Linked DNA regions of Homo sapiens: regions 1, 2 and 4 are each linked to region 3. Evidence: fine-mapped expression QTL. A gene starts in region 3. Each other region holds a variant in brackets. All regions are shown on one strand. Distances are between the middles of the regions. Region 1 has its middle 44 kb from the start of ARMC3. Region 2 overlaps LOC105376451 (a long non-coding RNA gene). Region 3 holds the start of ARMC3 (armadillo repeat containing 3). Region 4 holds the start of LOC105376451 (a long non-coding RNA gene).

Region 1 (8,107 bases), 43 kb after region 3:
ATCTCCCATTATTATTGTGTGGGAGTCTAAGTCTCTTTGTAGGTCACTCAGGACTTGCTTTATGAATCTGGGTGCTCCTGTATTGGGTGCATATATATTTAGGATGGTTAGCTCTTCTTGTTGAATTGATCCCTTCACCATTATGTAATGGCTTTCTTTGTCTCTTTTGATCTTTGTTAGTTTAAAGTTTTTTATCAGAGACTAGGATAGCAACCCCTGCCTTTTTTTGTTTTCTATTTGCTTGGTAGATCTTCCTCCATCCCTTTATTTTGAGCCTATGTGTGTCTCTGCACGTGAGATAGGTTTCCTGAATACAGCACACTGAGGGATCTTGACTCTTGACTCTTTATCCAATTTGCCAGTCTGTGTCTTTTAATTGGAGCATTTAGCCCATTTACATTTAAGGTTAATATTGTTATGTGTGAATTTGAGCCTGTCATTATGATGTTAGCTGGTTATTTTGCCCGTTAATTGATGCAGTTTCTTCCTAGCCTCGATGGTCTTTACAATTTAACATGTTTTTGCAGTGGCTGGTACCAGTTGTTCCTTTCCATGTTTAGTGCTTCCTTCAGGAGCTCTTTTTAGGGCAAGTCTGGTGGTGACAAAATCTCTCAGCATTTGTTTGTCTGTAAAGGATTTTATTTCTCCTTCACTTATGAAGGTTAGTTTGGCTGGATATGAAATTCTGGGTTGAAAATTCTTTAAGAATGTTGAATATTGGCCCCCACTCTCTTCTGGCTTGTAGAGTTTCTGCCGAGAGATCCGCTGTTAGTCTGATGGGCTTCCCTTTGTGGATAACGCGACCTTTCTGGCTGCTCTTAACATTTTTTCCTTCATTTCAACTTTGGTGAATCTGACAATTATGTGTCTTGGAGCTGCTCTTCTCAAGGAGTATCTTTGTGGCAGTCTCTGTATTTTGTGAATTTGAATGTTGGCCTGCCTTGCTAGATTGGGGAAGTTCTCCTGGATAATATCCTGCAGAATGTTTTCCAACTTGGTTCCATTCTCCCTATCACTTTCAGGTACACTAATCAGATGTAGATTTGGTCTTTTCACATAATCTCATGTTTTTTGGAGGCTTTGTTTGTTTCTTTTCATTCTTTTTTCTCTAAACTTCTCTTCTCACTTCATTTCATTCATTTGATCTTCCATGACTGACACCCTTTCTTCCAGTTGATCAAATCCACTACTAAGGCTTGTGCATTCATCACATAGTTCTCCTGCCATGGTTTTCAGCTCCATCAGGTCCTTTAAGGACTTCTCTGCATTGGTTATTCTAGTTAGCCATTCATCTAATCTTTTTCCAGGTTTTTAACTTCTTTGTGATGGTTCGAACTTCCTCCTTTAGCTTGGAGTAATTTGATTGTCTGAAGCCTTCTCTCAACTTGTTAAAGTCATTCTCCATCCAGCTTTGTTCCATTGCTGGTGAGGAGCTGCGTTCCTTTGGAGGAGGAGAGGCGCTCTGATTTTTAGAGTTTCCAGTTTTTCTTCTCTGTTTTTTCCCCATCTTTGTGGTTTTATCTACCTTTGGTCTTTGATGATGGTGACGTACAGATGGGGTTTTGGTGTCGATGTCCTTTCTGTTTGTTAGTTTTCCTTCTAACATTCAGGACCCTCAGCTGCAGGTCTGTTGGAGTTTGCTGGAGGTCCACACCAGACCCTGTTTTCCTGTGTATCAGCAGCGGAGGCTGCAGAGCAGCAGATACTGGTGAACAGCAAATGTTGCTGCCTGATTGTTCCTCTGGAAGTTTTGTCTTAGAAGAGTACCCGGCCGTGTGAGGTGTCAGTCTGCCCCTACTCGGGGGTGCCTCCCAGTTAGGCTACTCGGGGGTCAGGGACCCACTTGAGGAGGTAGTTTGTCCATTCTCAGATCTCAAGCTGTGTGCTGGGAGAACCACTACTCTCTTCAAAGCTGTGAGACAGGGACATTTAAGTCTGCAGAGGTTTCTGCTGCCTTTTGTTTGGCTATGCCCTGCCCCCAGTGGTGGAGTCTACAGAGGCAGGCACGCCTCCTTGAGCTGCGGTGGGCTCCACCCAGTTTGCGCTTCCTGGCCGCTTTGTTTACCTACTCAAGCCTTGGCAATGGTGGGCACCCCTCTTCCAGTCTTGCTGCCACCTTGCAGTTCGATCTCAGACTGCTGTGCTAGTAATGAGCAAGGCTCCGTAGGCATAGGACACTCCAAGCCATGCATGGGATATAATCTCCTGGTGTGCTGTTTGCTAAGACTGTCGTAAAAGTGCAGTGTTAGGGTGGGAGTGACCCGACTTTCCAGGTGCCATCCATCACCCCTTTCCTTGGCTAGGAAAGGGAATTCCCCAACCTCTTGCGCTTCCCTGGTGAGGTGATGCCTCACCCTGCTTTGGCTCAGGCTCGGTGCACTGCACCCATTGTCCTGCACCCCCTGTCCAACAATCCCCAGTGAGATGCACCCTGTACCTCAGTTGGAAATGCAGAAATCATTCGTCTTCTGCGTTGTTCACACTGGGAGCTGTAGACTGGAGCTGTTCCTATTCTGCCATCTTGGCTCCCACCAAATTTTTTTAAATCTTTTTATTTAAGTTCTAGGGTACATGTGCACAATGTGCAGGTTTGTTATGTAGGTATACATGTGCCATGTTGGTTTGCTGTACCCATCAACTCATCATTTACACTAGGCATTTCTCCCAATACGATCCCTCCCCCAGCCCCCTACCCCCGAGAGGCCCCGGTGTGTGATGTTCCCCACCCTGTGTCCACGTGTTCTCACTGTTCAACTCCCACCTATGAGTGAGAACATGCAGTGTTTAGTTTTCTGTCCTTGTGATAGTTTGTTGAGAATGATGGTTTCCAGCTTCATCCATGTCCCTGTAAAGGATATGAACTCATCCTTTTTTATGGCTGCATAATATTCCATGGTGTATATGTGCCACATTTTCTTAATCCAGTCTATCATTGATGGACATTTGGGTTGGTTCCAAGTCTGTGCTATTGTGAATACTGTCACAATAAACATATGTGTGCATGTGTCTTTATAGTAGCATGATTTATAATCCTTTGGGTATATACCCAGTAATGGGATGGTTGGGAAAAATGGTATTTCTAGTTCTAGATCCTTGAGGAATCGCCACACTGTCTTCCACAATGGTTGAACTAGTTTACACTCCCACCAACAGTGTAAAAGCATTTTAATTTACACTCCCAACAGTGTAAAAGTGTTCCTTTTTCTCCACATCCTCCCTAGCATCTGTTGTTTCCTGACTTTTTAATGATCACCATTCTAACTGGTGTGAGATGGTATCTCATTGTGGTTTTGATTTGCATTTCTCTGATGACCAGTGAGGATGAACATTTTTTCACGTGTCTGTTGGCTGCATAAATGTCTTCTTTTGAGAAGTGTCTGTCCATATCCTTTGCCCACTTTTTAATGGTTCTTAATGGGGTTGTTTGATTTTTTCTTGTAAATTTGTTGGAGTTCATTGTAGATTCTGGATATTAGCCCTTTGTCATATGGGTAGATTGCAAAAATTTTCTCCCATTCTGTAGGTTGCCTGTTCATTCTGATGGTAGTTTCTTTTGTTGTGCAGAAGCTCTTTAGTTTAATGAGATCCCATTTGTCAATTTGGGGTTTTGTTGCCATTGCTTTTGGTGTTTTAGTCATGAAGTCTTTGTCCATGCCTATGTCCTCAATTGTATTGCCTAGCGTTTTTTCTAGGGTTTTTATGGTTTTAGGACTTACATTTAAGACTTTAATTCATCTTGAGTTGATTTTTGTATAAAGTGAAAGGAAGGGATCCAGTTTCAGCTTTCTACATATG[G/A]CTAGCCAGTTTTCCCAGCACTATTTATTAAATAGGGAATCCTTTCCCCATTTCTTGTTTTTATCAGGTTTGTCAAAGATCAGATAGTTGTAGATGTGTGGTGTTATCTGTGAGGCCTCTGTTCTGTTCCATTGGTCTGTATCTCTGTTTTGGTACCAGTACCATGCTCCTTTGGTTACTGTTGCCTTGTAGTGCAGTTTAAAGACAGGTAGTTTGATGTCTCCAGCTTTATTCCTTTAGCTTAGGAATGTCTTGGCCATGCAGGCTCTTTTTTGGTTCCATATGAACTTTAAAGTAGTTTTTTCCAATTCTGTGAAGAAAGTCATTGGTAGCTCGATGGGGATGGCATTGAATCTATAAATTACCTTGGGCAGTATGGCCAGTTTCATGATATTGATTCTTCCTATCCATGAGCATGGAATGTTCTTCCATTTGTTTGTGTTCTGTCTTATTTCATTGAGCAGTGGTTTGTAGTTCTCCTTGAAGAGGTCCGTCACATCCCTTGTAAGTTGGATTCCTAGGTATTTTATTCTCTTTGAAGCAATTGTGAATGGGAGTTCACTCATGATTTGGCTCTCTGTTTGTCTGTTATTGGTGTATAGGAATGGTTGCGATTTTTGCACATTGATTTTGTATCCTGAGACTTTGCTGAAGTTGCTTATCAGCTTAAGGAGATTTTGGGCTGAGACAATGAGGTTTTTTAGATATACAATCATGTCATCTGCAAACAGGGACAATTTGACTTCCTCTTTTCCTCATTGAATACCCTTTATTTCTTTCTCCTGCCTGATTGCCCTGGCCAGAACTTCCAACACTATGTTGAATAGGAGTGGTGAGAGAGGGCATCCCTGTCTTGTGCCAGTTTTCAAAGGGAATGCTTCCAGTTTTTGCCCATTCAGTATGATATTGGCTGCGGGTTTGTCATAAATAGCTGTTATTATTTTGAGATACTTCCCATCAATACCTAATTTATTGAGAGTTTTTAGCATGAAGGCTGTTGAATTTTGTCAAAGGTCTTTTCTGCATCTATTGAGATAATCATGTGGTTTTTGTCTTTGGTACTGTTTATATGATGGATTACATTTATTGATTTGCATATGTTGAACCAGTCTTGCATCCCAGGGATGAAGCCCACTTGATCGTGGTGGATAAGACTTTTGTTGTGCTGCTGGATTTGGTTTGCCAGTATTTTATTGAGGATTTTGGCATTGATGTTCATCAGGGATATTGATCTAAAATTCTCTTTTTCTTTTTTTTGTTGTGTCTCTGCCAGGTTTTGATATCAAAATGATACTGGCCTCATAAAATGAATTAAGAAGGATTTCCTCTTTTTCTGTTGATTGGAATAGTTTCAGAAGAAATGGTACCAGCTCCTCTTTGTACCTCTGGTAGAATTTGGCTGTGAATCCATCTGGTCCTGGACTTTTTTTGGTTGGTAGGCTATTAATTATTGCACTTGAGATGGGTCTCCTGAATATAGCACACTGACGGGTCTTGACTCTTTATCCAATTTGCCATTCTGTGTCTTTTAATTGGGGCATTTAGCCCATTTACATTTAAGGTTAATATTGTTATGTGTGAATTTGAGCCTGTCATTATGATGTTAGCTGGTTATTTTGCCTGTTAATTGATGCAGTTTCTTCCTAGCCTCGATGGTCTTTACAATTTGGCAGTGGCTTTACAATTTACAGTTTTTGCAGTGGCTGGTACCGGTTATTCCTTTCCATGTTTAGTGCTTCCTTCAGGAGCTCTTTTAGGGCAGGCCTGGTGGTGACAGAATCTCTCAGCATTTGCTTGTCTGTAAAGAATTTTATTTCTCCTTCACTTATGAAGGTTAGTTTGGCTGGATATGAAATTCTGGGTTGGAAATTCTTTTCTTTAAGAGTGTTGAATATTGGCCCCCACTCTCTTTTGGCTTGTAGGGTTTCTGTTGAGAGATCTGCTGTTCGTCTGATGGGCTTCCCTTTGTGGGTAACCCGACCTTTTTCTCTGTCTGCCCTTAACATTTTTTCCTTCATTTCAACTTTGGTGAATCTGACAATTATGTGTCTTGGAGTTGCTCTTCTCGAGGAGTATTTTTGTGGCATTCTCTGTATTTCTTGAATATGAATGTTGGCCTGCCTTGCTATGTTGGGGAAGTTCTCCTGGATAATATCCTGAAGCGTGTTTTCTAACTTGATTCCATTCTCCCCATCACTTTCAGGTACACCAATCAAATGTAGATTTGGTCTTTTCACAGAGTCCCATATTTCTTGGAGGCTTTGTTCATTTCTTTTTACTCTTTTTCTCTAATCTTGTCTTCTCACTTTATTTCATTAATTTAATCTTCAGTCACTGATATCCTTTCCTTCACTTAATTGAATTGACTATTGAAGCTTGTGCATGCGTCACAAAGTTGTCGTGCCATGGTTTTCAGCTACATCCGGTCATTTAAGGTCTTGTCTACACTATTTATTCTAGTTAGCCATTCATCTAACCTTTTTTCAAGGTTTTTAGCTTCCTTTCAATGGGTTAGAACATGCTCCTTTAGCTCAGAGAAGTTTGTTATTAATGACCTTCTGAAGCCTACTTCTGTCAACTTGTCAAAGTCATTCTCCATCCAATTTTGTTCTGTTGCTGGCAAGCAGCTGCAATCCTTTGGAGGAGAAGAGGCACTCTGGTTTCTGGAATTTTCAGCTTTTCTGCTCTGGTTTCTCCTGATCTTTCTGGTTTTATCTACCTTTGGTCTTTGAAGTTGGTGACCTACAGATGGGGTTTTGGTGTGGATGTCCTTTATGTTGATGTTGATGGTATTCCTTTCTGTTTGTTAGTTTTCCTTCTAACAGTTGGGCCCCTCAGCTGCATGTCTGTTAGAGTTTGCTTGAGGTCCTCTCCAGACCCTTTTTGCCTGGGTATCACCAGCGGAGGCTGCAGAAGAGCAAATATTGCAGAACGGCAAATATTGCTGCCTGATACTTCCTCTGGAAGCTTCGTCCCAGACGGGCACCCACCTTTATGAGGTGTCTGTCGACCCCTACTGGGAGGTGTCTCCCAGCCAAACTACACAGAGGTCAGGGACCCACTTGAGGAGGCAGTCTGTCTGTTCTCAGAGCTCAAATACTATGCTGGGAGAACTACTGCTGTCTTCAGAGCTGTCAGACAGGGATGTTTAAGTCTGCGGAAGTTGTCTGCTGCCTTTTGTTCAGCTATGCCTTGGCCACGGAGGTGAGGTCTATAGAGGCAGTAGGCCTTGCTGAGCTGTGGTGGGCTCCACCCAGTTTGAGCTTCCCAGCTGCTTTGTTTACCTACTCAAGTCTCAGCAATGTTGGACGCCCCTCCCCTCACCAGGCTGCAGCCTCACAGGTTGATCTCAGACTGCTGTGCTAGCAGTGAGCAAGGCCCCCTGGGCATGGGACCTGCCAAGCCAGGCATGGGAGGGTATCTCCTGGTCTTCTGGTTGCTAAGACCATGAGGAAAGCACAGTATTTGGGCAGAGGTGTACTGTTTTCCCAGGTACAGTCTGTCACGGCTTCCCTTGGCTAGGAAAGAAATCCCCTGACCCCTTGCACTTCCGGGGTAAGGTGACACCCTGCCCTGCTTTGGCTCACCCTCTGTGGGCTGCACCAACTGTCCAGCCAGTCCCAGTGAGATGAACCAGGTACCTCAATCGGAAGTGCAGAAATCACCCATCTTCTGTGTTGATCTTGTTGGGAGCTGCAGACCAGAGCTGTTCCTATTCAGCCATCTTAATCATGGCTTGTCTCAATAAATTTTTAAAAATCAAAATCATATCAAGTGCCTTCTCAGACCACAGTAGTAAAAAACCAGAAATCAAACTCCAAAAGGAAAACTCAAAATTATGCAAATACATGGAAATTAGTCAATCTGCTCCCAGATGACTTTTGGGTTAACAATGAAATCAAGATGGAAATTTTAAAGTTATTCAAAATGAATGATAATGGTGACACAAGTTATCAAAACTTCTGAGATACAGCATAAAGCAGTGCTGTGAGGAAAGCTAACAGCACTAAATACCTACATTAAAAAGTCTGAAAAATCACAAATTGACAACCTAACATTACATCTCAAGTAAACAGAGAAACAAGAACAAACCCAAAGCTATAAGAAGAAAAAAAATAAGGTCAGAGGAGAACTAAATGAAATTGAAACAAAAATACAAAAGATCAATGAAATAAAAAGTCGTTTATATAAAAAGATAAAGTCAGTAGACCATTAACTAGATTAACTAAGAAAAGAAGAGAGAAGATTCAAATTAGCTCAGTTAGAAATGAAAATGGAGGCATTACAACTGACATCGCAGATATGCAAAAGT
Region 2 (8,107 bases), 59 kb after region 3:
CGGTTTGTAGGGCATGACTCCCCAGACCTCTTAGACAAGAATTTGGGCAAAATGAAAAAACTCAGAGCTTAGTCCTCCCATGGCAAGCAAATACACTAAGACACTAGGTTGCAGCAGAGAAAGAGGTTTAATCATAAGGCAGACAAATGAAAGAGATGGGGGGAAACCTCAAATCTGCCTCCCGGAGGAGTCTAGGGATAGGGATTTTAAGAGGCTTGGACAAGTAGCGGGCTGAGGTGTAGAGATGGTTGTTAGGTTGAAGAGTGTAGGATGAAGTCACAAGATAGATGAAGAAACTGTATTCTCATGTTGATTCCGTTCCTCTGTGGGGTTCTTCAAACTGGTTGGCACCACCCATTTTGCTGGAATTCAGGATCTGAAAAACATCTTAAGCAATTCTGCAACAAAATCCTTAGGATTCTAATGTCAGAGAGTCTAGCTATAGAAACAATGAGAATTTAGTATCTAGTATCAGTGAGAACGCAAATGGTCAGTATCTAGTGAGATGTGGCTAGTCCAAATTGAGGTGTGCTGTAAGCCTGATATGCACACTAGATTTATGTTTATTAAGCAGCTACAAGAAAGTGGGGCAGAGTGCAGTCTGAGGAATGTTTAATTGTAAGTATTATATTTCTGTCCAGAACCTGGCATGCAATTCTTGTTAACTCTATGAGGGTGATTTCACATAGGCAGAAAATGTGCACCAAGAGAAGCTCTGGTACAACTTTATCTACCACGTTTGCTCAAACTCAGCAACACTTTAGAGCGTTACCAGGGAGTAAAGGCTACCATTGGGCAGAAGGTAGGTGGAAGACCCAGAGAAAGTAAAACTTCAAAGTATTTTTCAGGTTTGGATTATAATCCTGGAAGACACAATGCCAAAAGCCATAATGCTTAATGTGTAAATCCCAAAAGATCAAAATCCCTAAAGTATACATTAATTCTCTAACATATAAAATCCTGAAAATAAGTCCAGGCGCCATGGCTCATGCCTATAATCCCAGCACTTTGGGAGGCTGAGGTGGGAGTATTGCTTGAGCCCAGGAGCTTGAGACAAGCCTGGGCCACATAAACCCCACCTCTACAAAAAAATACAAAAATAGCCAGGTGTGGTGGTACGTGCCTGCAGTTCCAGCTACTCTGGAGGGTGAAGGAGGGAGGATGGCTTGAGGCTGGGAGGTAGAAGTGGAGTGAACTGTAATCACGCTACTGCACTCCTGCCTGGGTAACAGAGCAAGATCCTGTCTCCAAAAAATTAATTAATTAGATAAAACCCTGAAAATCACAGTCACAAGATGGTTGCATTATGTTAGGCGGAATAGGGAATGCTCATTTCCATGTATATCAAATAATGGAAGAATTTCAAAAAGAGCAACACCACATAGAAAATCAACGTGGGCCAGGCGTGGTGGCTCACGCCTGTAATCCCAGCACTTTGGGAGGCCAAGGCAGGCGGATCATGAGGTCAGGAGATCAAGACCATCCTGGCTAACATGGTGAAACCCCGTCTCTACTAAAAATACAAAAAATTAGCCAGGCATGATAGCGGGCGCCTGTAGTCCCAGCTACTCGGGAGGCTGAGGCAGGAGAATGGTGTGAACCTGGGAGGTGGAGTTTGCAGTGAGCCGAGATAGTGCCACTGTACTCCAGCCCAGGTGAGCGAGACTCCCTCTCAAAAAAAAAAAAAAGAAAATCAATGCGAACATACTCACCAAGGAAAGCCATGCCCAATTAAATAAAAAAAAAAACAAAAAACTACTCATTGCGATGCAAGACTTCAAAATACAATGAATGATTGTGATAATCAGCCAGCTCTATGAACTACCTATGTGCAATTGCCCATGGTCTATCCCTATGATACACTTTTCCATATGTCAGATTTTCTTTTCAGTTTGTTTTTGTTTTTTAATTTTTTATATAGTTACTGTTTTTTTTTTAACTAAAATATGGGAATTGGAAAGCTTTAATCCCTTGACTCATCTAGTGTTGCCAGCCCATTTCCCTGCTGAGCTGTGAGACTGCATAATATCACAGTTTGTCATGGCGTTCAGATATGTCAGGGGTTCAATCCTATCCTGTGAGATAGAACAAATGATGGAACAGGGAATACTCAGCCTACCCTCAACACCAAAGGATGTGGCTCTCTTCAGAATAAGGTGTGATGAAATAGTCACTGTATTAGGGTTCTCTAGAGGGACAGAACTAATAGGATAGATGTATATATGAAGGGGAGTTTATTAGGAGAATTGACTCATGCGATCACAAGGTGAAGTCCCACAATAAGCCATCTGCAAGATGAGGAGCAGGGAAGCCAGTCCAAGTCCCAAAACCTCAGAAGTAGGAACGCTGACAGTGCAACCTTCAGTCTGTGGCCGAAGGCCCGAGAGCCCCTGGCAAACCACTGGTGTAAGTCCAAGAGTCCAGAAGCTGATGAACTTGGAGTCTGATGTTCGAAGCCGGGAAGCATCCAGCACAGGAGAAAGATGGAGGCCAGAAGACTCAGCAAGTCAAGTCCTTCCATATTCTTCTGCCTGCTTTATCCTAGCTGTGCTGGCAGGTGATTAAATGGTACCCACCCAGACTGAGAGTGGGTCTGCCTCTCCCAGTCCACTGACTCAAATGTTAATCTCCTTTGGAGACACCCTCATAGCCACTCCCAAGACCAATACTTTGCATCCTTCAATCCAATCAAGTTGACACTCAATTTTAACCATCACAGTCACTAAGCTATGCAGAGACTGGGTTTTTTTTAGCCAATATCATTTTCTATCTTTAACCACTTAAATAGCTATGTGGCAGACCCACCCTTGTGATGTCGTTCATCTTTCGGGTGCTTGAAAATATCCAAGACACTTTTGCCCTCAAAGAAAGGCACCCCACAAGGAAGGACAGGGCAGAAAGAGAGAGAAAGAGGGAGCCATTGCAGTCACAGCAGGAACGAGGCATTCTGCTTCCTGGGGGAGCCATGCTGATCTGTGCTGCTGTTGCACAGCTCTCTGCGGAGGAAGGGCCTTGAAGTCATGGACTCTCCCCTCCTAGGAGAAGGCTTCTGAAGGGAATGGCAGGGAGGTGTGCGATTTCATCTCTAGCTTGGCAAAGTGTGCTTTCCTGCATTCATGCTTAACTCCCTCTCACCCTTTTTTTTTTTTTTTTGAAATGTTTCACTCTTTTTGCCCAGGCTGGAGTGCAATGGCAGGATCTCAGCTCACTGCAACTTATGCCTCCTAGGTTCAAGTGATTCTCCTGCCTCAGCCTCCCAAATGGCTGGGATTACAGATGCCCACCACCACACCCAGCTAATTTTGTATTTTTAGTAGAGACAGCGTTTCACCATGTTGGCCAGGCTGGTCTCGAACTCCTGACCTCAGGTGATCCACCAAAGTGCCTCCCAAAGTGCTGGGATTACAGGCATGAGCCACCGCATGCCGGCCTCTCACCCTTTCTGCAGCTCTGGAAAGACGCTACATCTATAAACCTGAGTTTCTTTTCCAAAATTTTTTTTTAGAAAAATATATGAAATGCTTGGATGTTTGCTCCATCTCTCACCCTCCTAGCCATGCACTGTACTTATAGAGTGTATGTTGTATACCCAGTTCTTCTTTGGCCAAGAGAAAACTTTGCTTGATCAAAAATGATCACAGCTTTGCAACATCCCATAGAAGTTGATATAACTGAGAGTTATTTTCTCATTCTTACTCCACTCATATTTAATGACCACATGGAGAAAGAAAGCAGATTCAGAAGGTATTTGAATTACATCACCCTATATTCGAAACTAAATGAGAGCCAAGAGAAATACACACACATCCAGTTTATTAAGTAGTCAGGGATGTCCTTCTCTTTCAACTTGCCTTTCCCGGCGTGGCCCCTTGAGGGTTTCTTCAATTTGTGAAGATCCATAATGCAGATTCATGACCAGGATTGGAACTGCCCTGAAAACCAAAGCACTGGCTTTCAATGTGCACCAATTACTTTCACACCAACCTAATGTATAAGTGAGTCTGCTTTATAGAGTGGGAGGCAAGAAAAGCAAGGTCTTGATATTTGTGATATCAAAAGAAAATGTAATGGGAACACAAGGGAGCCTCTGTTAATGTTCCATCTCATGATCTGGGGTCTAGTTAAGCAGCTATGTTCTTCGTGAAAACTCATCAAAATGCACTTATTATTTATGCATTATTCTGTATATTTTTATGCATCAGTAAAAGGTTCACATTTTAAAAATCCATCATCTGGCTGGGCGCGGTGGCTCACACCTGTAATACCAGCACTTTGGGAGGCTGAGGTGGGTGGATCACTTCAGGTTGGGAGTTCAAGACCAGTCTGGCCAACATGGTGAAACCCCGTCTCTACTAAAAATACAAAAATTAGCTGGGCTTGGTGGCAGGTGCCTGTAGTCCAAGCTACTCAGGAGGCTGAGGCAGGAGAATGGCTTAAACCTAGGAGGCAGAGGTTACAGTGAGCTGAGATTACGCTACTGTACTCCAGCCTGGGTGACAGAGCAAGACTCCGTCTCAAAAAACAAAACAAAACAAAACAAAAAATCCATCATCTAATTTGTCTAACAAAAGTCTAAGAAGCAGATTGTGTCCAATCCAATTGGTGTTATCCAATATGGTACCCACCAACCACATGTAGCTATTGAGTACTTGAGATGTGGCTAATCCAAAC[T/C]GAGGTGTGCTATAAGCATAACATGCACACTAGATTTTAAAGACAGAGTATGAACAAATGTAAAATATTTTATTAATAATTTTTATATAGATTATATGTTGAAACCATATAGTACAGATATATTGGGTTAAATCAAATACATTTTTTAAATTTCAATTGTTTCTTTTTGCCTTTGTTAATGTGGCTGCTAGGAAATTAGAAATTATGTATGTGGCTCTCATTATCTTCTTTTGAACAGCATGGTCCTAATGTCTCTAACTCTCCCACTAGACTGGGTGTGAAGTTAGTTACTGTAGATCCTGGCCTCACACACTCACACCTGATGGATATTTTCAATTCCTATAGCAATATCACAGAATATTTTATATTCTAGGGGGAAAAAGAATAATTACCAATCTTGATTTGTAAAGTTGGCTTAAATATATACACATTATACGTGACTTTTTTTTTTAATTAACTGTGAATAGTGTAAAATGTTTTCAAGTTGAAAATAGTAAAAGTAACACTTCTAAAATGAACAAATCTAGCCAGGCACAGTAGCTCATGCCTGTAATCCCAGTACTTTGGGAGGTCAAGACAGGAAGATCACTTAAGCTCAGGAGTTCGAGACCAGCCTGGGCAACACAGTAAGACTCTATCTTTGCAAAATAAAAATTAGCCAGGAGTAGTCCTAGCTACTTGGGAGGCTAAGGCGAGGGGATCACTTGAGCCCAGAAGTTCAAGGTTACGGTGGGCTATGATTACGCCACTGCATTCCAGCCTGGGTGACAGAGCAAGACGCTATCTCTAAAAAAGATAAAAATAAAAAAATAAAAATAATGGGCAAATCTGAAAAGTTTCAATTCAGTCAGTCATGAGTGCAGAACCACCACGGCAAAGGGAAAGAACCTTTCTTGGGTTTAGAGTCTTCCCCTTTGTCTAATATTTCTGCTTTCTGTTGTGTACTTTTCCGTAATTTGTATTCAAGCTGTGAAAAACATTCTTCCATCAGCAGAATCTGGCACTATAGCAGGCTCTTCAGAAAGAAGGGTGGGCATTTTTAAAATTCACTCTGGATTTGTTAAGTGGTTTACAGCTGAGAAGCCAGAGGAGCTGACTTTTCACTGTATAAATTTTGAAAGAGCACAAAGGCAAGTATCTCTTTAAGAATTATGATATTCTGTGGGCCATATCATAGGCACATTATTAAAATATGCGCTCTTTTGACTATTATAGGAATCTAAAATTTGCTAATTATGTAATAGCACACTAACAAAAGCATAATCATAGATACACAGTATTTGATGTATATCCCAGTTATTGGCAAACCTTGAAACTAGTTACATACTATTTCTAGAAAAATCAAAATTTGTCCCAAAAGTGTTAGACTCAAGTCAAGACTAGAAGTGCTTAAGTAGGCTTAGGAAAATTACCATTTCTTCCATGACAGTCACCGGGGAAACATCTATCAATGGAAGTTTAAGAAAATTGGGCACAGTAAGCAAGAGTGAAGGACGAATCACAGCAATTGCCTTTAAGCATTCTCCCATTTGCAGAGATTCTAATCCTCACTCTAAAATGAATTATTTCACTGCAAGGGGTTTGCAGTGAGAGCATTTTGTTTTTGTTTTTGCTTTTTTAGAGACAAGGTCTCACTCTGTCGCCCAGGCTGGAGTGCAGTGGTACAATCTTAGCTTACTGCAACCTCGAACTCCTGGGCATAAGCATTTCTCTCGCCTCAGTCTCCTGAGTAGTTAGGACTATTCCTGACTAATTTCTTTTTTTTTTTTTATTTTGTAGAGACAGGGTCTTGTTATATTGCCCAGGCTGGTCTCATACTCCTGGCCTCAAGTGATCCTCCTGCCTTGGCCTCTCAAAATTTTTGTTCTTTTTATATGTAACACTAACCATTTTACATTCAACAGTCATTGGAAATACTCAAAGATTCAACATTTATAGGACAAACATTCTTTGAAAGTAGCAACACTGTCTAACAAATTTTAGTTGATATTCAACTTAACTATAATATTCAGAACAAAAAGACTGGGGAAGATAAGAGATGGAGGAAAGAAATGAGACTGTCAAATCAGGGAGAGAGGAGGAATGAAAATGAATGGTACATTTTCTGGAAGTCATGAAAGTCATCAACCCGAGTTTAATATTTGATCTGAATGGTAAAGGAAGATGGTACTGGTGATATCAGAAGGGAATTCTAGTTCATTTACATCTCACAAAACACATCAACAACCTAATCTAGAAGATGAGCTACCATACTTATATCAAGATATTTCCAGTATGTGAATCATAGGATTCCTCCTTTTCTACTTGTAAAGCCCATCTGAATTCTTTGGAAATTTCTCTGATTACAGGAAACAGCAGATAGACTGATGAAATACCTATAGTTACATAATGCTAACTAGTTAATTTTTAGAGCCTCTTAGGTTGAGAATTTAAAGTCTATTTTTCTTGTATCAACCCAAAAGGCATCTGTTCCAGGCATTTGTTAGCTAGCCCCTCAGCATACATTAGGTTAATTTTATGTATCAACTTGACTGGGCCACCGGGTGCCCAGACATTTGGTCAAACATTATTCTGGGTGTGTCTGTGAACGTGTTTCCAGATGAGATTAGCATTTGAATTGGTAGACCTAGCAAAGCAGTATATCCTCCCTAATGCGAGTGGACCCCATCCAATCAATTGAAGACTGAACAAAACAAAGAGGCTGAGTAAGAGAGGGCTCCTCCTGCCTGACTGCTTGAGTTGGAACATGGGTCTTTTTCTCGCCTTCAGACTCAAACTGAAACATCAGCTCTTCTTGAGTTTCAAGCCAGCTGGCTTTCAGACTGGAACTTACTCTATCAGCTCTCCTGGTTCTCAGGCCTTTGGACTTGCACCAAGACTATGCCATCAGCTCTCCCTGGTCTCCAGCTTGCCAAGTACAGATCTTGGAACTTCTTTGCCTCTGTAATCATGTAAGTCAATTTCTTACAATAGATCTGTATATGTAAATGTGTATATTTATATACATATTGTACTTTTACATGTATGTGACACCTATGAATGGATGGCTTCTTTTGGACTCATCATATGTAGCTCTAGCTCTGTCCTGGGGAGAGGAAATTTGTAGGAAAGATCTTTTCATTTCTCCAGTTACTTCATTTCTCTCATGTAGATGGGCTTTGCTGCCCATAGACAGGACGGACTTGTTGCCCCTGCCCATCATTGTCAGAGGGGAACAGGAATGCACCTTCCCCAACTATCCCACCTCACAGTATCTGCTCTGAAGCAAATACATACAGGAATCCATGAAAGTTTATGCAGTTCTTGACTGAAGGGGTTTGAGTGCCTACAGATTTAGGATGTGCTGGGGCAAGTGAACAAGTTCATTTTTTTTTCATTTACATCATTTTGTCTTTATTTCTTGCAAAGAAATACCCTGATTGTGTTATGCACAGAG
Region 3 (8,107 bases):
AACATACCACAGAGGAGTAACCAGCCTGGGTTCAAAGAACTTTTCAGGCCGGGCAGGTGGCTCACGCCTGTAATCCCAGCTCTTTGGGAGGCCGAGGTGGGCGAATCACGAGGTCAGGAGTTCAAGACCATCCTGGCCAACACAGTGAAATCCTGTCTCTACTAAAAATACAAAAATTAGCCGGGTGTGGTGGCACGTGCCTTGTAGTCCCAGCTACTCAGGAGGCTGAGGCACAAGAATCACTTGAACCCGGGAGGCGGAGGCTGCAGTGAGCCGAGATCGCACCACTGCATTCCAGCCTGGGCAACAGAGTGAGACTGTCTCAAAAAAAAAAAAGAAACTTTTCAAGATGTTAATGTCTATTAGAATAACCCAGGAAATCTATCTAGTTTTCTTCAGTGAGAGTTTGTGGAATTATGTTTGACATCAGGGCCATCTTAAACGGTATATCGTAGGAGCAATCTTAAACGGTATATCATAGCCTTAAGGAAATTACCATAGTCTCAGTAGAAATCCTAGGAAGTAGAAAATCCTTGGGGAGAATCTACAGTGTCAGGGTTAGCTCAAATTGCATGTCAAGGGTCAAAAGCAACTCCTAGCATTAGAGACACTGACCAGAATTTATCACATACATTAAAAAGCCACGTCTTCATAGAAACTCCTAGATACTTCTGAAAGGCATTTATTCTAGGTCTCTAACTTCAGACCACACTACTTTTAAGACTTTGGAGGGCCTGGGCAAGCTTATTCACACAATAGCCAATATATTAAAATGTTAAAATGTGCCTGCATCGCCCATTAAATGTCATTTGCATCATAAAAACTTTTGAAATTTGTATTTGAAATTACTCAGCAATCAGTACATACACCTGGAAATTCTTGTAAAATGAGAAAATTGTTTTCAAATGTAATAAAAATTTATATTAATAAAACATTTAATTAACACTAATTTTTCAGTTCTCTTTTCATATTTTAGAGCCAATATAAGCATTTTTTTCAAATCTCAAACATCTTCCTTAGGTGCTTGAAAAGTGAACAGGCCCTAGACCTTGTGCCTATAATATTTCAGGCAGAGAGGCAGAAACTATTCTGGGCAAATGAGAATCTATCCTACAATTAATCTCTAGGAAAAAAAAAAGAGAGAGTTTATAGCACTCTATAACCAATTCCAAGACAGAGCAGCCTTTGATTTATAAAATAATTGCTTATGAATAATATTCAGGAAGCAATTTAATTACACCTGCATAAAGTTGTTTTAAATCATCTGATTTTCACTTAGGAACTAATTTTTCCTACTTCAGGATAGTGTTTTTGAGCAATTGCATAGTGCAGAGGTTAGAAGAGCTTACACAGACAGTATTGCAATGATAGAGTGTCTCCTAAGCTAAAGAATGAAGTTAAAAGCCTATGTGTTTTATCATGGCCCGGCGTGGTGGCTCACTCCTGTAATCCCAGCACTTTGGGAGGCTGAGGCGGGTGGATCACCTGAGGTCAGGAGCTCAAGACCAGCCTGGACAACATGGCAAAACTCTGTCTCTACTAAAAATACAAAAATTAGCCTGGAGTGGCGGTGGCATGTGCCTGCATTCCCAGCTACTGGGGAGGCTGAGGCAGGAGAATTGCTTGAGGCCGGGAGGCGGAGGTTGCAATAAGCTGAGATCACCCCATTGCACTCCAGCCTGGGTGACAGAGCGAGACTCTGTCTCCTCCCCCAAAAAAAGCCTATGTGTTTTATCACCATATTGGGTATGATAGTTAATGGAGGAGAGACTGAACAGCTGACATAGGTCGGTGGCAATGAGCTATGGAGATGATCCTTACAAGGGTAATACATTTCACTGTGGAGAATTTGGAAAACAAGGGCACAACGAATAAAATAAAAATCACCCAAAGATAAGCTCAGAGAGATCAATACTATTTCTTTTCTTTTCCTTTCCTTTCCTTTCCTTTCCTTTCTTTTTCTTTTTCTTTCTCTTTCTCTCTCTCTTTCTCTCTCTCTCTCTCCCTCTCTCTCTCTCTTCTCTTTTTTTCTTTTTCTTTTTCTTTTTTGAGACAGAGTCTCACTCTGTTGCCCAGGCTGGAGAGTGGCCTGATCTTGGCTCATTGCAACCTCCACCTCCCAGGTTTAAGAGATTCTCCTGCCTCAGCCTCCTGAGTAGCTGGGATTACAGGTACCCGCCACCACGCTCGGCTAATTTTTGTATTTTCAGTAGAGACAGGTTTCCCCACATTGACCAGGTTGGTCTCGAACTCCTGACTTCAGGCGATCCACCCGCCTCAGCCTCCCAAAGTGCTGGGGTTGTAGGCGTGAGCCACCGTACCTGGCTTTGTGTGTTTTTCTAAAGTGATTTTAACATCCTGCCTCAACTTCTATCCCCTACTTTCACCTTCCCTTCCTGGGTTCATATTCCTACTAAATTCTTATATTAACAAATAAATTCATGAAGTCTCAGTTTCCCTTCATTGCTTTAATAATCTCCAGTGGATTAGCATAACATGCCATTACAAATATTTTAAAATCCCTTAGCTATCTAGCCAGTCTCTGATTGTTGAAATTTGTTTCTAATTTTCTGGAAATATGGACAGGGCTGAAAGAACGTCCTTGGACATAAAATTTTCATCCATTATCCCCAACTATTTCTTTAGGATAAATCTCTAGCAGTAAATTAACTGGGTGAAAACTTCAGGGCATTGGATATGCAAACAACTCTGCTCTAAAAATGCATCTTCTTGACTACTGGAGCCATTTTTTTTTTCACGAGTTGATTGGTCCTTTGTATTTGTTCTTCGTGAACGTTCAGCCTATGATTTTAAATATTTTCTAATGAGTTCTGCTTTGAGAAGATTTAAAGAGGAGGAGGGCTCAAGAAATCGAGGCCACTTCTGAGTTGCTCACAGTCAAGTAACGGAATCTGACTTGATCTCACCTCAGATCCCCTCTCGGGCCTCAGTTTTGTCACCTGTTGAATGGGAGGTGGCGGGATGCTTACGAAACCCACCCCAAGCCCCGTCTAACCCTGCGGGCGCGAGGCAGAAACTAACAACGCCCAGCAAGGTGTTGCCTCACTGACCCAAGCAGTCTGCGCCCACGTGGCACCTTCTCCTTTCCCAGGTTTTCCTCAGGCCTCTGCCTTGGGCCTCCCCACCCCACGGGGTTACCTTTACCTGCCGGGAGATCCCGCCGAGTAGCTAGCTGCTCCGCAAACCCAGCAGACGAACCCCCAGTCCCTTGTTGTGCCTCGTTGCTAGGCGACGCCACGCCGCGCCGCGCCTGCGCCCTGGGAACGCTCGGGGCTGCTAGGGCGCCCATTGTCCCGCCGAGGGCAGCGGCCAGTGCGGGAGGAGCCAAGTGCGTCCGCGATTACCTGAATCCAGTGCTTTAGGGGAGAATGGAAACTGGGGGTGGAAGCTGTAAATCAAGAGGCAGTTCAGCCTCAGTTTCTGGCCCAAGGACTGGCTGTGGGTTCAAATACGCAAATACTATTGCATTCTTCCAAATAGAGGCGTCAGCCGGAATCTCTATGCAGATGAAACCCACATCAGCCACCTCCTGCCCAGGCTCCGTTAAGCTGCAGACCTGCACTGCCACATCTCTTTGCACTAGGATGTCCAATCCGTTTCCACAGAACTTCTCATGGCCCTTCAAAGCCCCGTTCTCTTCCTCTTTCTTTCCTCTTCCTGCCATTCTTCCAATTGCCTAGACTCAGAAGGAGCTTCAATTTCCCTTCTTCCTCCCATGCCCCCCAACCACAGTCATCACTTCAGCCACTTCTTGGCGGCTTACATTTTGTTTCCTGCTTGTTCCCTTTCTCATATCCTTATTGTCACTTCAATCCAGCTCGTCATTTTTTGGCCTTCTGGCTGAGAAATTCAGTTGCTCTCTGCTTACAGTTCTTTCTACGTATCACAGGCAAATCGGCCATCCAGAAATCATCGTTCCAGTCTTGTCACTTCCCTACTCAAATGTCAGCGGCTTCCTAAGATAAATTTTCAACACATTGGCCTGGAATTTAAGACCGTCTGCTCCATCTCTACTCCATCTGTGCAACCACATTTTCAACCGATCTCCACCATCCAAGCTCCAGCCAAACTTACTGTTCCCGAAATTTTCCACACTTTTCTCTAGATTTTCTTGCTTATCTGTTCATCACTTCATTTTTCAACAAATATTTATAAAGTAGCTTCTATTTCCCAGGTCATGTGCAATACCTGAAATATTCTCTCATTTCCACTTAATTAAGCCCAGCTCAAATGCCATCTTCATAAAATATTTTTTGATTGCCTTTAGCAAAAAGTCTCTCCCTCTCCTCTTAGACTTTGCAAATTCCGTCTCCTACCGGCCCCTGTTGGTCTCCCAGTCCTAAGAATGATAGATGCTTCTTATAATTGCTACTTTTATATATCTTATGTTCTCTTCTCACCATTTAAATTGCCTGATAAACAGCTTTATAACAATTATTTGTATTCAGTTTTCCATGGTCAAATATCCGGTGTGACTTCTGTATAGAAAAGATCTTAAGTAATGGTCATGAAAGTAGGAAAAGGATTAAGACCAAGTAGCATCAAGGAAACTAAGGAGGGAGTTTCAAGAATATAAGCGTCATCAAGTGTTATATGATTGGACCTTGAATAATATACACCTGTATTTTCAGCCTCTCCCTGTCTTCCACGTTTTTTCCTGTTGGTATATAATTATGTTGAAGCCCCTCCCATGCCTCATCTAAAAAGCAAAAACAAATAAAATCCCTTTGATGTTGTTGTTCCTTCTAACTATTATCCTATTGTTTTCTTTCTCTTCTTGGTCATGACTTTTCAAAAAAAGTAGCCAGCATTAGATACTTACATATTTTTAACTTCCTATTCACTCTTCAGACTATAGTGACCTGTTTTCATCCCAGCACTAAAACTATCCATATCCATTGGATGCTTCTTAGCCCTCATCTTGCTTGACATTGCTGCTGTATATAATACTCAATGACACCTCATTCTTGAAACTCTTTTCTTGGTTTCCTTGGTACTACTTGCTCTTGATCTTCCTCCTACTTTCTTTTATGACCATCATTTAAGATCTTTTCTATACAACAGGGTCTATCTATGTTGCCCAGGCTTGTCTTGAATTCCTGGCCTCAAGGAATCCTCCTGACTCAGCCTCCTGAGTAGCTGGGATTTTATAGGGATATATGCCCTATTGTGGTTTTTTTACAGAATCTTAAATGTTGAAATTTCCCAGGGATCTGTCCCTTGTTCTCTTTTCACACTATATGCTTTTCTAGGTGATCTTATTTATATTTGTGACTTCAACTATTGCACATATGTAGCTCCTCATCAGACTCCGGTACTGAACTCTAGACCCATATATCCTACTTGCTACACAGTTCCACCTGGATACCCACAGGCACTTCAGTCATCAACACTACCCACCTAAACTCATCATTTTCCCAGTATAGACATGTTTTTCCATTTATCTAGGGGTACCAACAGGTGTTCTACCCAAACAGACCACCAAGTCTGACAGGCATCCTAGACTTATTCTCCTTTTCATGCAGTTAATTATTGGATTCCCCTAAAAGTTTCTTGAATTTATTCTCACCTTCCAATTCCCATAGCCCAAGTACAGAAAGTCACTGTCCTTTACCTGAATTCATCTAACAAGCCTTCTGGCAGGTCTTCCATCCTCTAGACTCATCCTAGCTTCAATTCATCTTCTCCAAGACAATCAAAGTAATCATTCTAAGATGCAAATTTAATTTGTCTGTGTCCTTGCTGGCTCCAATAGCTCTAACACACAAATGATGAAATGCAACAAGATTCTTAAATTGACACTCAAGATCTTTCTTGTTCTGACTGACTGCTTCCTACTACAATAGCTTCTGTCATTGTTCAAAAATATAGCAAACTGCTCAGCATTCTCCAAGTACACCATGACATTTTGAGCCCTTCACTCCCCTAATCAGCCTGAAAACCACTTATTCATCTTTCAAATTTTAACTTAGTCATCATTTCCTCCAAAAAGTCTTTATTAGCTTCTTCAGACAGAGGGAAGCATTTCTCATTCGTTGCTATAGCTGTACCTTACACTTGCTCTATTTGTTATTTTCACATGATACTGTAATGTATTTGTTGACATGTATGTCTCCCCACCTAGGCTGTTTCTAAATGTTCTTCAAGTAACTAAAGCTTTTTTAATACTCACTATGAGACTGGCAATTATGAAGTGGTTAAAGTGCACAATTAAATCCACACCGTAATCCTGTGAGGTCTGAATGAAGTACAGGGTGATTAGCAGAAGGTCACTCTACTAGTAAATGGTAAAGACAGGACTTGAACTAAGGTCAGCTTGACTTTTATATCCATGTTCTGCACCAATATATCATACCAGCCCATCCTGAAATTATAGTGTTATAACAAGTTGTGATTTATTTTATTTTATTTTATTATACTTTAAGTTCTGCACAATGTGCAGGTTTGTTACATTTGTATACATGTGCCATGTTGGTGTGCTGCACCCATTAACTCGTCATTTACATTACGTATATCTCCTAATGCTATCCCTCTCCCCTCCCCCCACCCCATGACAGGCCCCAGTGTGTGATGTTCCCTTGTGATGTGTTTTTATGAAATAATTAAAACTACTGCTTTAATTCTTGTTTTATAGACTTAGTCTTTGCTGAGTATGTCAAATTTGGGCGGGAGATCATGTTTATTTTAACATATACAGTTGGATGGGTTTGGACAAGGGTTTGCAGTTGTGTAACCATCACCCCAGGGAAGTTTCAGAGACCATCTCCATCATCCCAAATTTCCCTCATGCCCCTTTGAAGTCAAATCTCTCCCTCTAACTCACTTCCCTGGGAACAACTGCTCTGCTTTCTCTCCCTATCATTTTGGCTTTTCTAGAATGTCTTATAAACAGAACCATGCAATATGCTGTATTTTGTGTCTGGCTTCTTTAATTTAGCATAGTTTAGGAGATTTGTCCATGGTGTTGCATTTATCCATAGCTTATCTCACTTTATGGCTGAGTGGTATTGCACTGCATAGATGTACAACATCCATTTACTGATTGATGGACATTCTGGTACTTTCCAGTTTGGGACTGTTATAAATAAATATGGTTAAATATACAGGGTGTTGTGTGAACGTGTTTCTCTCTTCTTGGGAAAATACCCAGGAGTGGAATTTCTGGGTCTTATGTCATGTGTATGTATAATGTTATAACAACCTGCCAAATTGCTTTCCAAAGGAACTATACTGTATTTGCATTCCCACCAGCAAAAATGAGAGATGCCATTGCTTCATGTGTTCTACAGCACTTGATGTTGTCAGTCCTTTTAATTTTAGCCATTTTAGTGGGAGTATAATGGTATCTCCCTCTGGGTTTAATTTGCATTTCCTTCATGACTAGTGATGATGATCCCATTCTATGTGATCACTAGCCATTTCTGTACCTTCTTTTGTGAAATGCCTGTTAAAATATTTTTCCTACTTTTAATTGGGTTGTTTGTGTTCTTGAGTTGTAAGAGTTCCCTGTATAGTGATGATAATCCCATTCTATGTGATCATTAGCCATTTCTGTACCTTCTTTTGTGAAATGCCTGTTCAAATATTTCTCCTACTTTTAATTGGGTTGTTTGTGTTCTTGAGTTGTAAGAGTTCCCTGTATATCCTGGATACAGGTCATTTGTCAGATATACATTTTGGACATATTTTCTGACAGTGTGTGGCTTATCATTTTGTTTCTTAAAAATATATTTTGTACACCGGAAGCTTTCAGTTTTGATGAAGTCCAATTCATTCATTGTTTCAAAGGTTAGCCTTGTTTTGTTTTATTTCATTTTGCTTTTGCCCTGCCTAAGAAATCTTTGCCTAGTCCAAAGGGAAGAAAATAGACTTCCTTTTATGTTTTGTTTTAGAAGTCTTCCAGTTTTGATTCTTATATTTGGGTCTATGATCCATGTCACATTAGTTGCTGTATATGGTATGAGATGGTTTGAGAATCACAATTTTGCATATGAATGTCCAAATGTTCTAGTACCACTTGAAGAAAACACTATTTGTGTATTGAATTACTTTGGCATCTTTGTCGAAAATAAATTTACCCTTTGTA
Region 4 (8,107 bases), 72 kb after region 3:
CAAAGGCCTTTTCGGCATCTATTGAGATAATCATGTGTTTTTTGTCTTTGGTTCTGTTTATATGCTGGATTACATTTATTGATTTGTGTATGTTGAACCAGCCTTGCATCCCAAGGATGAAGCCAACTTGATCATGGTGGATAAGCTTTTTGATATGCTGCTGGATTCGGTTTGCCAGTATTTTATTGAGGATTTTTGCATCAGTGTTCATCAAGGATATTGGTCTAAAATTCTCTTTTTTGGTGCTGTCGCTGCCAGGCTTTGGTATCAGGATGATGCTGGCCTCATAAAATGAGTTAGGGAGGATTCCCTCTTTTTCTATTGATTGGAATAGTTTCAGAAGGAATGGTACCAGCTCCTCCTTATACCTCTGGTAGAATTCGGCTGTGAATCCATCTGGTCCTGGATTTTTTTTGGTTGGCAGGCTATTAATTATTGCCTCAATTTCAGATCCTGTTATTGGTCTATTCAGAGATTCAACTTCTTCCTGGTTTAGTCTTGGGAGAGTCTATGTGTCGAGGAATTTATCCATTTCTTCTAGATTTTCTAGTTTATTTGCGTAGAGGTGTTTGTAGTATTCTCTGATGGTAGTTTGTATTTCTGTGGGATCGGTGGTGATATCCCCTTTATCATTTTTTATTGCATCTATTTGATTCTTCTCTCTTTTCTTCTTTATTAGTCTTGCTAGCGGTCTATCAATTTTGCTGATCTTTTCAAAAAACCAGCTCCTGGATTCATTAATTTTTTGTAGGGTTTCTTGTGTCTTTATTTCCTTCAGTTCTGCTCTGATCTTAGTTATTTCTTGCCTTCTGCTAGCTTTTGAATGTGTTTGCTCTTGCTTCTCTAGTTCTTTTAATTGTGACGTTAGGGTGTCAATTTTTGATCTTTCCTGCTTTCTCTTGTGGGCATTTAGTGCTATAAATTTCCCTCTACACACTGCTTTGAATGTGTCCCAGAGATTCTGGTATGTTTTGTCTTTGTTCTCATTGGTTTCAAAGAACATCTTTATTTCTGCCTTCATTTCGTTATGTACCCAGTAGTCATTCAGGAGCAGGTTGTTCAGTTTCCATGTAGTTGAGTGGTTTTGAGTGAGTTTCTTAGTCCTGAGTTCTAGTTTGATTGCACTGTGGTCTGAGAGACAGTTTGTTATAATTTGTGTTCTTTTACATTTGCTGAGGAGTGCTTTACTTCCAACTATGTGGTCAATTTTGGAATAGGTGTGGTGTGGTGCTGAAAAGAATGTATATTCTGTTGATTTGGGGTGGAGAGTTCTGTAGATGTCTATTAGGTCCGCTTGGTGCAGAGCTGAGTTCAATTCCTGGATATCCTTGTTAACTTTCTGTCTCGTTGATCTGTCTAATGTTGACAGTGGGGTGTTAAAGTCTACCATTATTATTGTGTGGGAGTCTAAGTCTCTTTGTAGGTCACTCAGGACTTGCTTTATGAATCTGGGTGCTCCTGTATTGGGTGCATATATATTTAGGATAGTTAGCTCTTCTTGTTGAATTGATCCCTTTACCATTATGTAATGGCCTTCTTTGCCTCTTTTGATCTTTGTTGGTTTAAAGTCTGTTTTATCAGAGACTAGGATTGCAACCCCTGCCTTTTTTTGTTTTCCATTTGCTTGGTAGATCTTCCTCCATCCCTTTATTTTGAGCCTATGTGTGTCTCTGCACGTGAGATGGGATTCCTGAATACAGCGCACTGATGGGTCTTGACTCTTTATCCAATTTGCCAGTCTGTGTCTCTAGATTTCAAATTGGTTATTTTTCATCTTATTATTATTTAAATCAATTAAAGTTTTGAATTAGAAGAGAATTCGATTAAAATTAAATTACTTTGCCAAAACAGTAAATCAACTTGGGACTAAACTTTCTTAAATTGCATGTGTTCTTTCATTGTTCACTCAGTCAACTTTTTTTTTTTTTTTTTTTTTTTTTTCAGATGGAGCCTGGCTCTGTCGCCCAGGCTGGAGTGCAGTGGTGCAATCTCAGCTCACTGCAACCTCCACCTCCTGGTTTCAAGCGAGTCTTCTGTCTCAGCCTCTCCAGTAGCTAGGATTACAAGTGTATGCCCCCACGCCCAGCTAGTTTCTGTATTTTTAGTAGAGGGGGGTTTTCACCATGTTGGCCAGACTGGCCTCAAACTGCTGACCTCAAATGATATGCCCACCCCACCTTCCCAAAGTGCTGGCATTGCAGGCATGAGCCACTGCACCCAGCCAAATTTTTTCTTTTCTTTTTTTTTTTTTTTTGAGACAAGGTCTCACTCTGTTACTCAGGCTGGAGTTCAGTGGCACAATCATAGCTCACTGCAGCCTCCTCCTCCTAGGCTCAAGTGATCCTCCCACCTCAGACTCCCACACAGTGGGGACTACAGGTGTGTACCAAGCTTGGCTCATTTTTTTTTTTTTTTTTTCCTTCAAAAAACAATGTCCTACTCTCTTGCCCAAGCTGGTCTGGCTCTCCTGGGCCCAGGCGATTCTCCTGCCTGGCCTCCCAAAGCATTGAGATGAGATGGCACACATGAGCCGCTGTGACCAATCTTTATTGAGCACTGACTGTTTTAAGACATTAGGTAAAATACTGTGAGTGAAATAGAGATAGATTAGCAACCATCAGGAACTTCCCTCTGCAGGTTTGTAGTTTCATAGAGAAAACAAGATTTAGATGCAAATGCTTGTAACAACATTTACAGAGAAATCATGTAGACCAGAGGAAAGGAAGAAAGATGAAGCATCAGCCATTGGAACTTGGACAGGAAGGGATTAGTCCTGGCTTGAGGGAGGATTTGTAGCTGCCTCTGTGCATCCTTTCCTGCATTTTCTGACTTTGCGTTCATTCTTTCTTTCACTATTTAATGATACTCTTACCCTCTGGAATGGTTGAGTTAAAAATTACGACCAGGCAGGTGCAATGGTGCTCCTGTAGTACCAGCTACTCCAAAGGCTGGGGCAGGAGAATTGCTGGAGGCCACAAGTTCAAGACCAGCCTGGGCAACATAGCGAGACCCTGTCTTGACACCAAATTTAAAAATTTGCTGGACATGGCAGCACATGCCTGCAGTCCCAGCTGTTTGGGAGGCTGAGGCGGGAGGATCACCTGGGCCAAGGAGTTCAAGGCAGCAGTGACCTGTGATCATTCCACTGCACTCCAACCTGGGCAACAGAACAAGGTCCTGTCTATTTAAAAAAAAAAAAAAGGATAGACATTTCACCGGCTCTTGCAGTACAAAACAGACATAGTCTCTGGGATATATAATATATAAAAGAACCAAAAAAATAATAATAGTACGGGTGCTGATTTTGGATCTAAAAGATTAAGTTCTTGTTGTCTGTGTGTTAATTTAGAAATAGTCCTCCTCAACATTAACATCTACAGACGTTTGACCTAAGGTTTGAAATATTAGGGAATTTATTCTCTTTTTTTTTTTCCTCTGTTGCCCAGGCTGGAGTGCAGTGGCATGATCTCAGCTCACTGCAACCTCTGCCTCCTGGGTTCAAGCAATTTTCCTGCCTCAGCCTCCCAAGTAGTTGGGACTATAGGCACACACCACCATGCCCAGCTAATTTTTGTATTTTTAGTACGGACGAGGGTTCACTATGTTGGCCAGGCTGGTCTTGAACTCCTGACCTGAAGTGAATCAGCCACCTTGGCCTCCCAAAGTGCTGGGATTATAGGTGTGAGCCACTGCACCCAGCTGATTCTCTTAACTGATAAAGGCCAAAAGGAACAAGGATCGACACTGACCAAGGCCTGACCTCCACAGAAGTGCTCCCAGCACAGGGAGGCCGCAGGAGTAGCAGAGAAAAATTCAGGCTGAAATGTTTGCAAACAGACATCCCCAAACACAGCGTTGGCATGAAGGAAACTCAGAGCACATTAGTCACTGCTTCAATGGAGGAGTGGGAAGACCA[G/C]CCTCAGCCCGCTGGTGAAGAGCAAAGTTTAAAATAACCCTACTAAATTAGAACAGTGGTCAGGATGCTTTTTAAAGTTTGCTGAAGATAAATGCAGGGTAGGAGTCCCTCCAGGAGAGGGAAGTGAAGTATACAAATAGAAGATAAGATGTGACTGGCTACAGGGAAGGATGTCTTAAAACGAGCCAGCAATGAAAATAGATAAGCTGGAGTCAGTCATAACAGCAGCTTTTTAAAGACTGAACAGTGCCAGGATGTAAAACCAAGTCCCCAGAGGAACCATGAGATCACCCTCCCATTATACATGGTACTAGTCAAACTTTTCTAGGAGCAGGGTGTCCATTCCTGAGTTCTAGAATTAAGGGGCATGGAGAACTTGGAGAACATTCTATCCCTAAAGTCAACCAGGATTAGAAAATGGGACTTCTGCAAAAAAGTAAGGGCTCGAGATTGTTCATTATGAAGAGAAAGCCAAGAGTTGATTAAATTGGCATCTTTAATTGGCAAGATTGTGTATGTGTGTAAATATGTGTGTATGTATGTATATATGTGTATTTAAATTCAGCTATTTTTTTCACCAGGGTACAATCTTTTTAGCTATAATATAAATATTTGGGGTTACATGTTAAGAGAATTGTCTAAAAATAGAGTTCAAACCCCAGTTTGAACAAACTCTGCTCTAAATTGAAAGCCATTTGCTTAGGGGTCAGAGGCCTCCTGGAGGGCCTGATCTTCTTGGTCTGATTTGACTTTATATTGGTAGGGATTACTGCCTAACGATTTATTTTTCTTCATTCCATTATTATTTTTCAGGCATCTTTCTTCTTCCTGGTCTACAGTTTGTTATAGTGTCCTCCCTTATCTACAGCTTTACTTTTTGTGGTTTCAGTTACCCGAGGTCAACCACAGTCCAAAAATATTAAACAGAAAATTCCAGAAAGAAACAAATTATAAGTTTTAAACTGGGTAGCATTCTGAGAAGGGTGATAAAATCTTGAATTGTCCCGCCCCATCCCACCTGGGACATGAATCATCCCTTTGTCCAGTGGATCCACATTGTACTACCCACCCATTAGTCATCAATAGCATCTGCTCCTGACATTCAGTCACTGCCATCAATTATGGTTCGATGATCCAGGTTCACCTGAAGCAGATGGTCCTCCTAATCGTCAGAAAGTCAATAGTAGCCCAACCCTACGTCACAATGTCTGTATCATTTACCTCACTGCATCTCATCACAAAGGCATTGTGGTATCCCACATCATCACAAGAAGGGTGAGCACAGAACAGTAAAATATTTGGAGAGAGAGACCACATTCCCACAACTTTTACTGCAGTATATTTTTAGAATCATTCTATCTTATTATGAGTTACTGTTATTAATCTCTTACTGTGCCTACTTTATCAATTAAACTGTATCATAGGTATGTAGGTATAGGAAAAAACAATATCTATAGGATCTGGTACCATCCATGGTTTCAGGCATCCAATGGGGGTCTTGGAACACATCTCATGAGGATAAGAGGGGACTACCATATTCTCCTGTCTGTGTTTGTAACAAGAATGCTGCACTTCTAGGCACCGAGTTGCCTCCCAACCCCTTCCCCTCTGCCATCAGAGAAACTCTCCCACCTCCTCTGCTCTTCCTGAGCTTCCTTCATGCATCTTGCGTCAGCCGAAAGCTGTCTCTTCTCAGAAGACACTCCTTCCAATTGCCCGGGAATGCCTTTCTCTCTCACATGCACCCTATTATGGAGGTGGGCTGCCATCGTCTTTGCTCCTTGTTCCACTTGCATCCACTACTATTGTTCCCTCTTGCAAAAATTCTTGCTTTTTTGGACTTCGTGGTTTTCAGCTCAACCACTCCTTCCTGTTATTTTCTTCTAGCCAATTCCTGGTCACTCCCTTCCCAGCCATTTGTCAAAGTCTTAGCATGTGGACTCAAAGTCCCACCATCCTGCCCAATAAATTCAACAAACACATGGCGTTCCGCTGTACCAAATGGCCTCTGATTCCTCAAGTTCTCATCTGCAATAGCTCTTCCACTCCACTCAAATCATCCATCCTAGTGCACACACATTGGGTCTTCCTGTCACTCCCCAGTCCCCCACTTGCAGAGTCACTGAAGCAAATGTCCTCTGAGCATCACTACTTCCCCTTGCCCTGGCTGACTCAGCTCCTTCCACTGAGGCCATTCCTCAGCCCCATCAGGATTTCAGGCTTGCAGCTCCATCCTCAGTCTCTCAGTGCCTTGACCTTGTCCCGTCTGCACATCCTCCTCATCTGGCAGATGCCAAGGGTTCAGCAAGTTGATAGCCCTTTTGCCAATACTCTATATTCCCTTGCCCTTTGAGCTTTTTTTGTTTGTTTCCCTCTTCTGGCAAACTCTCACCCCTAATGAATCCAGCTATTTGCATTCCAACCCCCAGCAGCTGAACTCTTCTGAAGAAAGGCACGCAATGGAGCAGACTGGCTTTATTGTAAATGCATAAAAATGAATCTCAGGGCCGAGTGCGGTGGCTTATGCCTGTAATCCCAGAACTTTGAGAGGCTGAGGTGGGCTGATCACTTGAGGTCAGGAGTTTGAGACCAGCCTGGCCAACATGGTGAAACCCTGTCTCTATTAAAAATACAAAAATTAGATGGGCATGCTGGTGCAGCATGCCTGTAATCCCAGCTACTCAGGAGGCTGAGGCAGGAGAATCGCTTGAACTTGGGAGGCATTAGTTGCAGTGAGCCCAGATTGCACTACTGCACTCCAGCCTGGGCAACAGAGTGAGACCCTGTCTCAAAAAAAAAAAAAAAAATGAATCTCAGATGGACCCTCTTACTACATATTTTGATTAACTCACTCTCCTACTTTCCATCAAAACTTCTACAGAGCTTCTCCCCTCCTTTGGTGACAGCCACTCTCACACCACATGCACACACAAACACACGCATCTGCCCCTTCTTCCTCAAACTCAGCAGAAACTTTGCCATCTACAACACAAAGAACATTGAAGCTGTAACAGAAGGACTCTGGGATTGTTCAGAACACTCTTTGCCAGGCTCTGGTGGTGCAGGACTTTTTTGTCTTGCCCTCATCTCTCTGGCTACCCCATTTCCTTTGTACAAACCTGGCCATTAAATATCCACCATGTTATGCCAGAACTTTTCCTCACTCCACGTGCTTTTCTTAGGCATTCTTAGCAATGACAAACTTGCACAGATGACTCACAAATGCATATCTCTAGACCAGACATTCCATCGGCGCCTCCGACCCATCTGTCCACCTGTCAACCTGTCATCTCCATGCAGACATCACAAAGGCACAGCAAAAGTTCCTACCTAAATCACGCATCTTCCCACCTTCCAATCCATGCTCTTCTTCTACCTCTCTTATTTCAGCACAAGATACTACCATCTTTCCTGTTCTACAAGCCAGGTATCTAGGCATCATCCATAACCTCCCTGTCTCTCTCACCCACTATTGATTCTAACACCTTGTCCTGCTCATTTTACCTCCTAAATACCTCTCAAATCCATCTCCACACTAACCCAGGCAACCATCAGTCCCAGCCTGTATAATGTCAGTTGCTTCTTCCTGCCACAGCTTAGACCACCACACTACTCATCCTGTAACCATACTTTACCCTTCTCCTCCACTCAGAAGCCAGAGTGATCTTTTAGAAACATAATTCTGAGAACGCAGCTCTTCTGCTAAAACTATTCAACAGCTTCCATTGCTCTAAGAATAAAGAGAAAATTCTTTATCCTGCTATTTCCTGAGATAGATGCCCTTGGTGGCCGTTTAGGTCATGCTTCTTCATGCCACAGGACCTGTCTCGTGTTGTTCCCTCTATTTGGAAATGTCAGTTTTCTAGCAAAGACTTCTCTTGTGGCTCTGATTGTCAAATTGTTGCCACGCAATCAATGGGCTTGCTGCCTGATGCACACAGAGGCCAATATGATGGCACCAGCTTTTGAGAAAAGAAAAGCTTTATTGTCATTTAACTCACAAGGAGACAGGAGGAAATGCTCAAGTTTGTCTCCTGGAGCTAGGTGCTGAGGCAGGTTTTATAAGCATAGGGTAATGAGGTGTGATCTGATTGGATCTCACAATGAGGTGATGCCAGGAGGCATGAGCTGATTGGATCCTGCCATGAGGTGATGACCGCACTCAATCTGGTTGGATCCTGGATTCTGCCA

The links. PIP is the estimated chance that this variant, and not a neighbour inherited with it, causes the effect.
Region 1: its variant is fine-mapped to the expression of ARMC3 in whole blood (INTERVAL, PIP above 0.99).
Region 2: its variant is fine-mapped to the expression of ARMC3 in whole blood (INTERVAL, PIP 0.99).
Region 4: its variant is fine-mapped to the expression of ARMC3 in whole blood (TOPMed, PIP above 0.99). The same link has a PIP of 0.9 or more in blood mononuclear cells.

Annotation. Positions count from the first base shown.
Region 1 is chr10:22,880,080-22,888,186 of GRCh38, reverse strand. No RefSeq gene overlaps it. Among named protein-coding and RNA genes, the nearest start is that of ARMC3, 44 kb to the left of the region's middle. The variant G/A (reference allele first, on the strand shown) is at 3,796.
Region 2 is chr10:22,863,914-22,872,020 of GRCh38, reverse strand. It overlaps LOC105376451 (a long non-coding RNA gene), which reads right to left. Exons shown (of 3, transcript XR_930749.3): 2 at 7,505-7,612; 3 at 3,797-3,932. Among named protein-coding and RNA genes, the nearest start is that of ARMC3, 60 kb to the left of the region's middle. The variant T/C (reference allele first, on the strand shown) is at 4,672.
Region 3 is chr10:22,923,165-22,931,271 of GRCh38, reverse strand. It overlaps ARMC3 (armadillo repeat containing 3), which reads right to left and starts at 3,219. Exons shown (of 19, transcript NM_173081.5): 1 at 3,166-3,219.
Region 4 is chr10:22,851,097-22,859,203 of GRCh38, reverse strand. It overlaps LOC105376451 (a long non-coding RNA gene), which reads right to left and starts at 5,104. Exons shown (of 3, transcript XR_930749.3): 1 at 4,986-5,104. The variant G/C (reference allele first, on the strand shown) is at 3,917.